Linked DNA regions of Homo sapiens: region 1 is linked to region 2. The links come from fine-mapping of genetic effects on gene expression. Tissue or cell type: tibial artery. Region 2 holds a variant in brackets; the other region holds the start of a gene. All regions are shown on one strand. Distances are from middle to middle. Region 1 holds the start of NCF2 (neutrophil cytosolic factor 2). Region 2 has its middle 20 kb from the start of ARPC5.

Evidence for each region. PIP is the estimated chance that this variant, and not a neighbour inherited with it, causes the effect. A credible set is the group of variants that fine-mapping cannot tell apart.
Region 1: NCF2 starts here. The variant in region 2 is the best candidate, but not a certain one, in a credible set for the expression of NCF2 in tibial artery (GTEx, PIP 0.73).

The regions. Positions count from the first base shown.
Region 1 is chr1:183,587,539-183,592,909 of GRCh38, reverse strand. NCF2 (neutrophil cytosolic factor 2) reads left to right here and starts at 2,451. Exons shown (of 15, transcript NM_000433.4): 1 at 2,451-2,754. The coding sequence starts at 2,581. It also overlaps the pseudogene C18orf32P1. RefSeq lists enhancers at 1,722-2,061, 2,172-2,431.
Region 2 is chr1:183,613,391-183,618,761 of GRCh38, reverse strand. No RefSeq gene overlaps it. Among named protein-coding and RNA genes, the nearest start is that of ARPC5, 20 kb to the left of the region's middle. The variant A/T (reference allele first, on the strand shown) is at 3,092.

The DNA.
Region 1 (5,371 bases), 26 kb after region 2:
AACTAGCACGAGTCGCACAGATGCAGGAATGAAGGCATAGCGGGAGAAGAGTAAGCAGCAGAGTTTGTATGGGATTGTGAAGGAAAGTTCTGGGGATAAGGCTAGAAAAGTCTTGGCAGTCAGATTAAGGAGAGTTCTGAGTGTCAGGGTGGGATAATAGGAGGGCAAAAACATTTTTTAAAAATGAAGTCTAATTTAGCTACAAATCCATTTGGTTTTCTCAGGAATAATTAATGTGCTATTCAAGTCCTGATTATTTATTCACTAGATGGAATAGCAATACCTCTTTCTGCCATCACTGCTACCTGCAGGTCATTTACCAATGATTTCTAATTTCTTTTAGAATGTATCCCTTCATCATGTATTGAGTATCTGTGCTAGAGATCCTAGAATGAAAAGGCATGGTCCCAACTTCCAAGGAGCCCATGAATTGAGCAGATAAAGAGATAAATTGCAGTAAGTATGATGCAAGTTTTTGGGTAAAGGTGGTACAAAGGAGAGGAAAATTCTCCTACTACCCAGAGTTCAGGGCTAGATTTAGCACAGTTGGTGACATTTAAACTGGGCTTTGAAAGATGAGTAGGAGTTTGCCAGGCAAAGAAGAGAGCTGGGAAGGCCTTGTAAACACAGGAAAACAATCTGGACAAAGACACACATGTCTTCTTAATTCTCACACCTTCAATCCTACAAGCACTGTGGAGTATACATTTTTAAGTTTTATTTTCAGGCTTTTAGGGGAAGCTTGGTGATAATGAGTGAATTCTTTCAGTTGCTACAAAACAAGAGTTTGCATCTAAGTATTTGACCCCCATAAACATGCATTTTACCTAAAAAGAAGCCTGGATTTTAGCAAGCCAAATTGGCTATACCCTTTACCCCCAGTTATTCCTCTGGGAGGTTTTACTGATTTTTACTTTTCTGGAAAAGCAAGGAAAGAACTCTTAAATCTGTTTTTTCAGAGACTAGTAAATCCATTAGTCATCAGTGCAGGACTTTCATCTCTTCAATTTTTCACTGGAAGATGGGAGAAGTCATAATTCACTGTCATGTGGCTCCCAATTTTGACATTTGCAGGAAATTGGTCCCCTCTGAACTTCATGAATGTTCATAAAAGTTATTTCGGCTGGGCACGGTGGCTCACTCCTGTAATCCCAGCACTTTGAGGGGAGGCCGAGGAGGCCGAATCACCTGAGGTCAGGAGTTCGAGACCATCAGCCTGGCCAACATGGTGAAACCCCATCTCTACTAAAAATACAAAAATTAGCAGGGCGTGGTGGCAGGCTTCTGTAATCCCAGCTACTCAGGAGGCTGAGGCAGGAGAATTGCTTGAACCCAGGAGGCAGAGGTTGCAATGAGCTGAGATCGTGTCACTGCATTCCAGCCTGGGCAACAAGAGTGAAACTCCGTCTCAAAAAAAAAAAAAAAAAAGTTATTTCAGGCCCAGATCAGATGGATCTCCAAAGATTATCCTGTCTCAAAAATTTGTTAATGATAATTTCAGCTCAAGATAAACACTAACATATTAATACAGCCTATGGGATTACAAAAAAGTGAGCAAGGAATTCATTCAAGACTGGAAAGAATTATCCTCTCATCTGACACTCCCATTTAACAAGGGTGTGGAAATCAAGGCCCAGTGACACAGGATTTTTTCTCCATCACTTTGTAAGCCAGGAACCTCTGGCTGGTGACACCCTGCCCAGGCCTCAGTGGGCCACACTACCTGCTGCAGGAGATGGCCTGCCCACTCGGCCTGGGTGGGGAGTTTTATTGAGTGATGAAAACAGCTTTCAGTGGAGAGGGGATGCAGGGGTGGTTCCCCTACCCAAAGGCAGGAAAGTCCCCCCAGTGCGGGTGAGTCTGGGGCTTTTATGGGCTCAGAATAGGGGAGGGGCAGGACATAGGTAGTACTGGAAAAGGCAACATTCAATTGGTTAAAAGGCATTAGTCAGAAATAATTAATTGGGAAAGAGCAGACAAACAGGAACAGAAGTTCTCACTCTAGGTCACGGGTTTCATTTGGGACCAGTAGCCTAGTCTTTCAGCCTTCAGGCTGTTTTTGGCTTGAAGGTGGGGTTTCACCAGGGACCTGCCCCTATCTGCCTAGGCATTTGGCTGCCTCCTGTCATTATCACCAGGGAGGTGCCTCTACCTGCCAAGGTTACCCTGGCTCTAGAAGCAGAACTTTGGCCAGAAGCTGCCACAGAACAGGGGTGGGAGAGAGAAGAGGAGCTGGGTGACAGAGCAGAAGCATTTTGGGGAACTGATCCTTCAGGCAGCAGCTGATGTACTTCCTCTCTCCTCCACACTCCACCCCTACTCGCCCTCTCTCTCTCTGCTTCTTTCCTTTTCTCTCTCATGGTAGGGTTATGAGTCAGTTGCCAAAAGGTGGGGACATTTCCTGATGCATTTGCAACACTGAGAAGTTATCTTAAGGGAGGCTGGGCCCCATTCTACTCATCTGGCCCAGAAAGTGAACACCTTGGGGGCCACTAAGGCAGCCCTGCTAGGGGAGACGCTCCAACCTGTCTTCTCTCTGTCTCCTGGCAGCTCTCTTGGCCTCCTAGTTTCTACCTAATCATGTCCCTGGTGGAGGCCATCAGCCTCTGGAATGAAGGGGTGCTGGCAGCGGACAAGAAGGACTGGAAGGGAGCCCTGGATGCCTTCAGTGCCGTCCAGGACCCCCACTCCCGGATTTGCTTCAACATTGGCTGCATGTACACTATCCTGAAGAACATGACTGAAGCAGAGAAGGTGAGTGGAGGTGCCTCTTTCCGGGCCTCCTCTGTGCATTTGTTATTATGATTCTCAACCCCATTGCATTTCGGAAACCTAACCTCTGGGGAGATTGAAAAGAACAAAAGTTGCCCAAGCTCCACCCCTAGACAGCCTGATTTAACTGGTCTGGGAGGGGCCCCAGGCAGCCAGTTTTAAAAGCTCTCCAGGTGGAGAGCAGGTGAGGGGCAGCCAGGGTTGCCTCTTTCTCCATCTTCTAAATTAAAATCATTCTACAAGTGTCTTTAACACCTTTGTGAAGGCTGTCCTAGTCGTACTTTCTTCTACACAGAACTCCTTCTGGGCACAGAATCTCTATCTATCCCAGCGCTTTACACCTGATTATTGATTCTAAGGCACCTCTTTTGGCTTTCCAAGACTTTCATGTGTGTCGACTTTGCCTGCTCAAGAGATTTAAGGGAGGCACTTACAAAAAATAGCTTTTATCCCAAGTGACAATTCTGATCAATTATAAAGGAGACTCTTTTAAAGATGCTGAGGCTGGCAAGAGGAAATTGTACTGTGATTGACTAGTGATGTCTGCTGGGGGCATGGTGTGGGATGTCTCGCATCTTTTTCGTTATGTTTTCTCACTCAAATACCATAGTATGGAGTTAAGCATTCTCGATAATTATTTTTTTGATTGGTTGTGGTAAGGTGGAAAGGGTATGGAGTTTGGAAGGAGAAGATCTAGGATCGAATCCTAGCCTCTGTCTCTCTCTGGACTTTTAGTCTTAAGCAAGCTATGTAGCCTATGTAGACATCTGGCTTTCAGCTTCCTGAGTTTCTAAATATCATGAAAATTAAGTGAGATGCCAAACTATTAATGTCTCGTGGAACTTCACACCACTGTATAAGAGTTAGTTATTATTTTTACCGATTACTGCCAGTCTTTGCAAGGTGTGGCAGTGGTTGACTCCCCAGGTCCCTTAAAGAATCAGTCCCTTCCACACTCCAACAGTAGGTAAACAAGCCTCAGCCACACCCTCCTGACAGGAAGACAGAGAAGTGACTGAAATGTTCTCACATAGCTTGACAAGTCAATCTCAGGCTCTAAGGCAGAGCATGGCAGGACCCCCCACCTCTGGCTGGAGGAAGGACATGGCCCCACCTCCTCTCAGGGGCCTGCTGAGGGGCTGAGTGAACAGCACCACACATTCTGAGGGCTGATGGACACAAAGTGCACATTGTCCAGGAGAAGAGATTGGCAGCTAGTCTGGGCACAGCTATGCCAGCAGGGACTGTAGCCTCCTGCCTTGGCCTGGATATGGGATCCTTGGCAAGGTTGTGTGGGCCACCACTCACTTCTCAGCTCCCAGGCCTTCAGGCCCACATGTCTCTGTTTCTCCTGGCATTCCTCTGCTTCTAGCCTTCTCATTCCTTCTGCCTTTCTTTGTTTTCCTGCTTGAGCCCTTCCTACTAGCATTTATATGCATTCTTATTCATTATCATTTTAATTGTATACTATTCATGTATAAGTTTGTATAGTAAACAAATATAACAATTTATATAATATTTTAATTATTTTCATTTGCAATAAATTTTATTATTTATTTAAACTGAATGTTCAATACATTCATAGGAATACAAGAAATGCAACAAGGGTTAAAATTTCATTATTACATTAGATATCATTTTTTCTTTCTTTTTTTTTTTTTTTGAGATGGAGTCTCACTCTGTCACCCAGGCTGGAGTGCAGTGGTGCAATCTCGGCTCACTGCAACCTCTGCCTCCTGGGTTCAAGTGATTCTCCTGCCTCAGCCTCCCAAGTAGCTGGGATTACAGGCATGCACCACCAAGCCCGTCTAATGATGTTTCATTTTTCAAAGAAGCTTCTCCTATTTCCCTATCTTTTTTATCTTCCACAGAGCAATAAATAGTAATTACTACTCTCCTGGACAAGGTGCTCTGTTGTGTTGGATAGGAATTGTATCTTTAAGTTTGACATCATTATCACCTCCAAAAACTCTACCTTCACTTCATAGCACAGTCTCGCTGCATTGTTTCACAGTAAAATTGTACTCTACTCAAACTAGGAGAACTCAAAGAAATTAGAGCAAACAGCAGTTAAATTCATATGAATGAAAGACAGAAGACCAAAGATTTTAAAGTACTGATTTAGTAACATAGTGTCTACTGGCTCAAAGCTTCTATCTAATCATATTAAATCATATTATTAAAACAGCGATAATAGAAATGAAAGCTACACTAATGAAAAAGGAACTTGGGAATGAGGTCATTAAATATAACTAACTATATTTTAAATATAGATATGTATTTTTTATTAGTATCAGGTAAATGTCTAAATTATCTATTCTGAATTCTAGTCTCAGAGAAGGTCAGAGACAGTTACAAAGAAGGCGCTTCATATTGTCAAGTCCATTTTTAAAATGATGAGCTCCTTTGGGAAAATGCTTTAGTGTTTCTTTTCTTCTAAGATTTCTGTTGGTGATAATCCATTAGTGTCTGCACCCTTATAGTCCACTTTGTCTTTATTTGTATCATTGGATTTTTTTTTTTTTTTTTTTTTTTTTTTTTTGAGACAGGGTGCCTTACTTTGTTGCCCAGGCTGGAGTGCAGTGGTGCCGTCACAGCT
Region 2 (5,371 bases):
TTGTGGTAAGGGGTGATATTGTGGGGTTGTTAGAAGAAACATTTGTCGTATAGAATGATTGGTGATGGCCTGGATACGGTTTTGTATGAATTGAAAAACTAAATGGAATAAGAGAAGGAGAAAAACAGGTATAAAAGGTCTAAGAATTGGGAGGACCTAGGACATCTGATTAGAGAGTGCCTAAGGACATTCAGCATAGTCCTGCCAGCAAAGATTATTTATTTACTTCAAGAGTTTAGAGTGGCAGTTTGGGGATAGCACCAGGAGATATCAGCTGTGATGGCTTGGAGAAACAGTGTAAACCGGCAGTGTAAACAAGAGCAGGGCATGTATGAGTAGTTGAGAATGGTGAATAGGAGTATGACTAGACAGAATATAGTAGGGATGACAAGTTTTTATGGGCACAGTCTAAGTTGGTCTGGTGTCGAATGAGACTGGGGCCTAATAAAAAGGAGCGTCTATACAGGAGCTTAAATGGGCTGTACCCTGTAGCATTCCGAGAACAGGCCTGAATTCTGAGAAGCGAAAGTGGTAAAAGTATTGTCCAGTCCTTTTTAAGTTGGTGGCTGAGCTTGGTGAGGTGTGTTTTTAAAAGACCTTTAGTCCATTCTACTTTTCTTGAAGACGGAGGACCGTAAGGGATATAAAGGTTTCACTGAATACTAAGAGCCTGAAAAACTGCTTGGCTGATTTGACTAATAAAGGCTGGTCTGTTATCAGGCTGTATAGAGGTGGGAAGGCTAAACTGAGGAATTATGTCTGACAGAAGGGAAGAAATGACTGCGGTGGCCTTCTCAGACCCTGTAGGAAAGGCCTTTACTTATTCAGTGAAAGTGTCTATTTAGACTAAGAGGTATTTTAGTCTCTTGACTCGGGCATGTTGAGTAAAGCTAATTTGCCAGTCCTGGGTGGGGGCAAATCCTCGAGCTTGATGTGTAGGGAAGGGAGGGGGCCTGAATAATCCCTGAGGAGTAGTAGAATAGCAGATGGAACACTGAGAAGTTATTTCCTTGAGGATAGATTTCCACGATGGAAAGGAAATGAGAGGTTCTAAGAGGCGGGCTAGTGGCTTGTACTATAGCATAACCTGCCTTTGCTGGTGTGCGGCGATTAGGCCTGGTGGAACTGCCATTAATAAATCAAGCATGATCAGGGTGAGGAACAGGAAAGAAGGAAATTTGGGGAAATGGGGTGAATATCAGGTGGATCAGAGAGATACAGTCATGGGGGTCAGGTGTGGTATCAGGAATAATGTGAGAGGCCAGATTGAAGTCCAGGCCAGGAAGAATGGTAATTGTGGGACTTAAAGAGTGAGTACAGCTGAAGGAGCCGGTGAGCAGAAAGTATATGCGTCAGGTATGAGGAAGAAAATAGATTTTGGAAGTTATGAGAACTGTAGAGAGTTAGTTGAGCATAGTTTGTGATTTTGAGAGCCTCTAAAAGTATTAAAGCAGTGGCAGCCGCTGCACGCAGACATGAGGGCTAGGCTAAAACAGTAAGGTCAAGTTGTTTGGACAGAAAGGCTACAGGGTGTGGTCCTGGCTCTTGTGTAAGAATTCTGACCGCGCTAACCATGCCTAGGAGGGAAAGGAGTTGTTTTGTAGAAGGTGCTGGGGTTTGAGAGATCAGTCGGATACGATTGGCAGGGAGAGCACGTGTGTTATTATGAGAATTATGCCGAGATAAGTAACAGATGAGGAAGAAATTTGGGCTTGATTAAAGTAATGGGGGCTGTCTGTGAAGCTTTGCGGCAGTACAGCCTGGGTCATTTGCTGAGCTTGATGGGTGTCAGGGTCAGTCCAAGTGAAAGCAAAGAGAGGCTGGGATTAAGGGTGCAAAGGAATAGTAAAGAAAGCATGTTTGAGATCCAGAACAGAATAATGGGTTGTAGAGGCAGGTATTGAGGATAGGAGAGTATATGGGTTTGGCACCACGGGGTGGATAGGCAAAACAATTTGGTTGATAAGGCGCAGATCCTGAACTAACTTGTAAGGCTTGTCTGGTTTTAGGACAGGTAAAATGGGGGAATTGTAAGGAGAGTTTATAGGCTTTAAAAGGCCATGCTGTAGCAGGCGAGTGATAACAGGCTTTAATCTTTTTAAAGCGTGCTGCGGGATGGGATATTGGTGTCGAGTGGGGTAAGGGTGATTAGGTTTTAATGAGATGGTAAGGGGTGCATGATCAGTCGCCAAGGAGGGAGTAGAGGTATCTTATACTTGTGGGTTAAGGTGGGGGGATACAAGAGGAGGACGCAAAGGAGGCTTTGGATTGGGAAGAAGGGCGGCAATGAGATATAGCTGTAGTCCAGGAATAGTCAGGGAAGCAGATAATTTAGTTAAGGTGTCTCAGCCTAATAAGGGAACTGGGCAGGTGGGGATAACTAAAAAGGAGTGCTTAAAAGAGTATTGTCTAAGTTGGCACCAGAGTTGGGGAGTTTTAAGAGGTTTAGAAGCCTGGCTGTCAATACCCACAACAGTTATGGAGGCAAGGGAAACAGGCCCTTGAAAAGAATGTAATGTGGAGCGGGTAGCCTCTGTATTGATTAAGAAGGGGACGGGCTTACCTTCCATTGTGAGAGTTACCTGAAGCTCGGCATCCGTGATGGTCTAGGGGGCTTCTGAGGCGATCGGGCAGTATCAGTCTTCAGCCGCTAAGCCGAGAAGATCTGGGAAGGAGTCAGTCAGAGAGCCTTGGGCCAGAGTTCCAGGGGCTCTGGGAGTGGCTGCCAGGTGAGTTGAACAGTCCGATTTTCAGTGGGGTCCTACACAGATGGGACGTGGCTTAGGAGGAATCCCGGGCTGAGGGCATTCCTTGGCCCAGTGGCCAGATTTCCGGCACGTGTAGCAAGCTCCTGGGGGAGGAGGTTCTGGAGGAAGGCCTGGCTGCTGCGGTTCAGGCGTTTGGAAGTTCTTGTGTGCTGGAGATGTGGCTGGGGTTTGTCTCACAGTGGAGGCAAGGAATTGCAACTTTTTTCTGTTATTGTACACCTTGAAGGTGAGGTTAATTAAGTCCTGTTTTGGGGTTTGAGGGCCAGATTCCAATTTTTGGAGTTTTATTTAATGTCGGGAGCAGATTGGGTAATAAAATGTAT[A/T]TTGAGAATAAGACGGCCTTTAGACCTTTTAGGGTCTAGGGCTGTAAAGCATCTCAGGGTTGCTGCCAAAGGAGCCATGAACTGGGCTGGATTTTTATATTTGATGAAAAAGAGCCTAAACACTTCTGATTTGGGATAAAGAAAAAGGAGCATTAACCTTGACTATGCCTTTGGCTCCAGCCACCTTTTTAAGAGTAAATTGCTGGGCAGGTGGGGGAGGGCTAGTCACGGAACGAAACTGTAAGCCAGACCAGGTGTGAGGAGGGGAGGTGACAAAAAGATTATAGGGTGGAGGAGCAGAGGCTGAGGAAGAATTGGGACCTAGCTCGGCCTGGAGAGGAGCAGCCTGGGGAGGAAGGGAGAGGTCAGATGGGTCTGTAGAAAAGGAAGATTAGAAAGACTCAGCGATGCTTGGGGTTGGTACTGAGGGGACAGGCGGGAGGGAAAGAAGGAAGATTTGGGACGAGTTGCACTGGGCACAGAGACTAGGAAGGGACTGATGTGTAAAAGAATGCCTGGACGTCAGGCACCTCAGACCATTTGCCTATTTTACAACAAGAATTATTTAGATCTTGCAAGATGGAAAAATTCAAAGTGCCATTTTCTGGTTATTTGGAACTACTGTCGAGTTTGTATTGGGGTCAAGCGGCATAGCAGAAGAAAATAAGGCATTTAGGTTTTAGGTCAGGTGTGAGTTGAAGAGGTTTTAAGTTTTGAGAACACAGGCTAAGGGAGAGAAGAAGGAGGAATGGAGGGTGGAAGGTTGCCCATAGTGAAGGAGACAAACCCAGAGGAAAGAGAGCGTAGAAACATGGAGGGAAGGGGTTCGGGGGTTCTTGCCCTCCCGAAAAGTGGGAAGGGGGTCGGGTCACGGAAATAAGGGATTGGGGCACAGAGATAAGAGGTTGGGGTGTGGAAATAAGGGATTGGGGGTTCTTGCCCCCTAGAAAAGTGGGACTTGTTGCTAAGGGTGAAGGAGAAGGGGTTGAGGGGAACTTGCCCCTCTCCCAGAAAAGCAGAGAAGGGGTAGAGACAAGGAGAGAAGGGGTTGGGGTACTTGCCCCTTCCCCAGAAAAGCAGAGAAGGGGTAGAGACAAGGACAGAAGGGGTTGGGGAACTTGCCCCTTCCCCAGAAAAGCAGAGAAGGGGTAGAGACAAGGACAGAAGAGGTTGGGGTACTTGCCCCTCCCCCAGAAAAGCAGAGAAGGGGTAGAGACAAGGACAGAAGGGGTTGGGGTACTTGCCCCTTCCCCAGAAAAGCAGAGAAGGGGTAGAGACAATGAGAGAAGGGGTTGGGGTACTTGCCCCTTCCCCAGAAAAGCAGAGAAGGGGTAGAGACAAGGACAGAAGGGGTTGGGGAACTTGCCCCTTCCCCAGAAAAGCAGAGAAGGGATAGAGACAAGGACAGAAGGGGTTGGGGTACTTGCCCCTTCCCCAGAAAAGCAGAGAAGGGGTAGAGACAAGGACAGAAGGGGTTGGGGTACTTGCCCCTTCCCCAGAAAAGCAGAGAAGGGATAGAGACAAGGAAAGAAGGGGTTGGGGTACTTGCCCCTTCCTCAGAAAAGCGGGACTTGCCGCTAAGGGTGAAGGACCAAGGCAGGTGTCCCTGCGTGGTCTGACACCTTTGAAACATGGGTGAATGATCAGAGAGGTGTGCCTGCAATGATTAAACACCAAGGGAAGGCTGCCTTCCCAGTCCGTGACTGGCGCCGGAGTTTTGGGTCTACGGATAAAACATGTCTCCTTTGTCTCTACTGGAAAATGAAAGGAATTGAAATTAAGAGAAGGGAGAGATTGAAGTGTGGCGCCAAGATTGAAAGGAGAAAGAGGTTGAGGGATAGTGAGGGAGGTTGGAGAAGAGAGTAAAAAGAGGCCGCTTACCGGATTTGAAATTGGTGAGATGTTTCTTGGGCTGGTCGGTCTGAGGACCTGAGGTCGTAGGTGGATCTTTCTCATGGAGCAAAGAGCAGGAGGACGGGGGATTGATCTCCCAAGGGAGGTCCCCCGATCCGAGTCACGGCACCAAATTTCACACGTGTCTGTGTGAAGAGACCACCAAACAGGCTTTGTGTGAGCAATAAAGCTGTTTATTTCACCTGGGTGCAGGTGGGCTGAGTCCAAAAAGAGAGTCAGTGAAGGGAAATAAGGGTGGGGCCGTTTTATAGGATTTGGGAAGGTAATGGAAAATTACAGTCAAAGGGGGTTGTTCTCTGGTGGGCAGGGGCAGGGGTCACAAGGTGCTCAGTTGGGGAGCTTCTGAGCCAGGAGAAGGAAATTCAC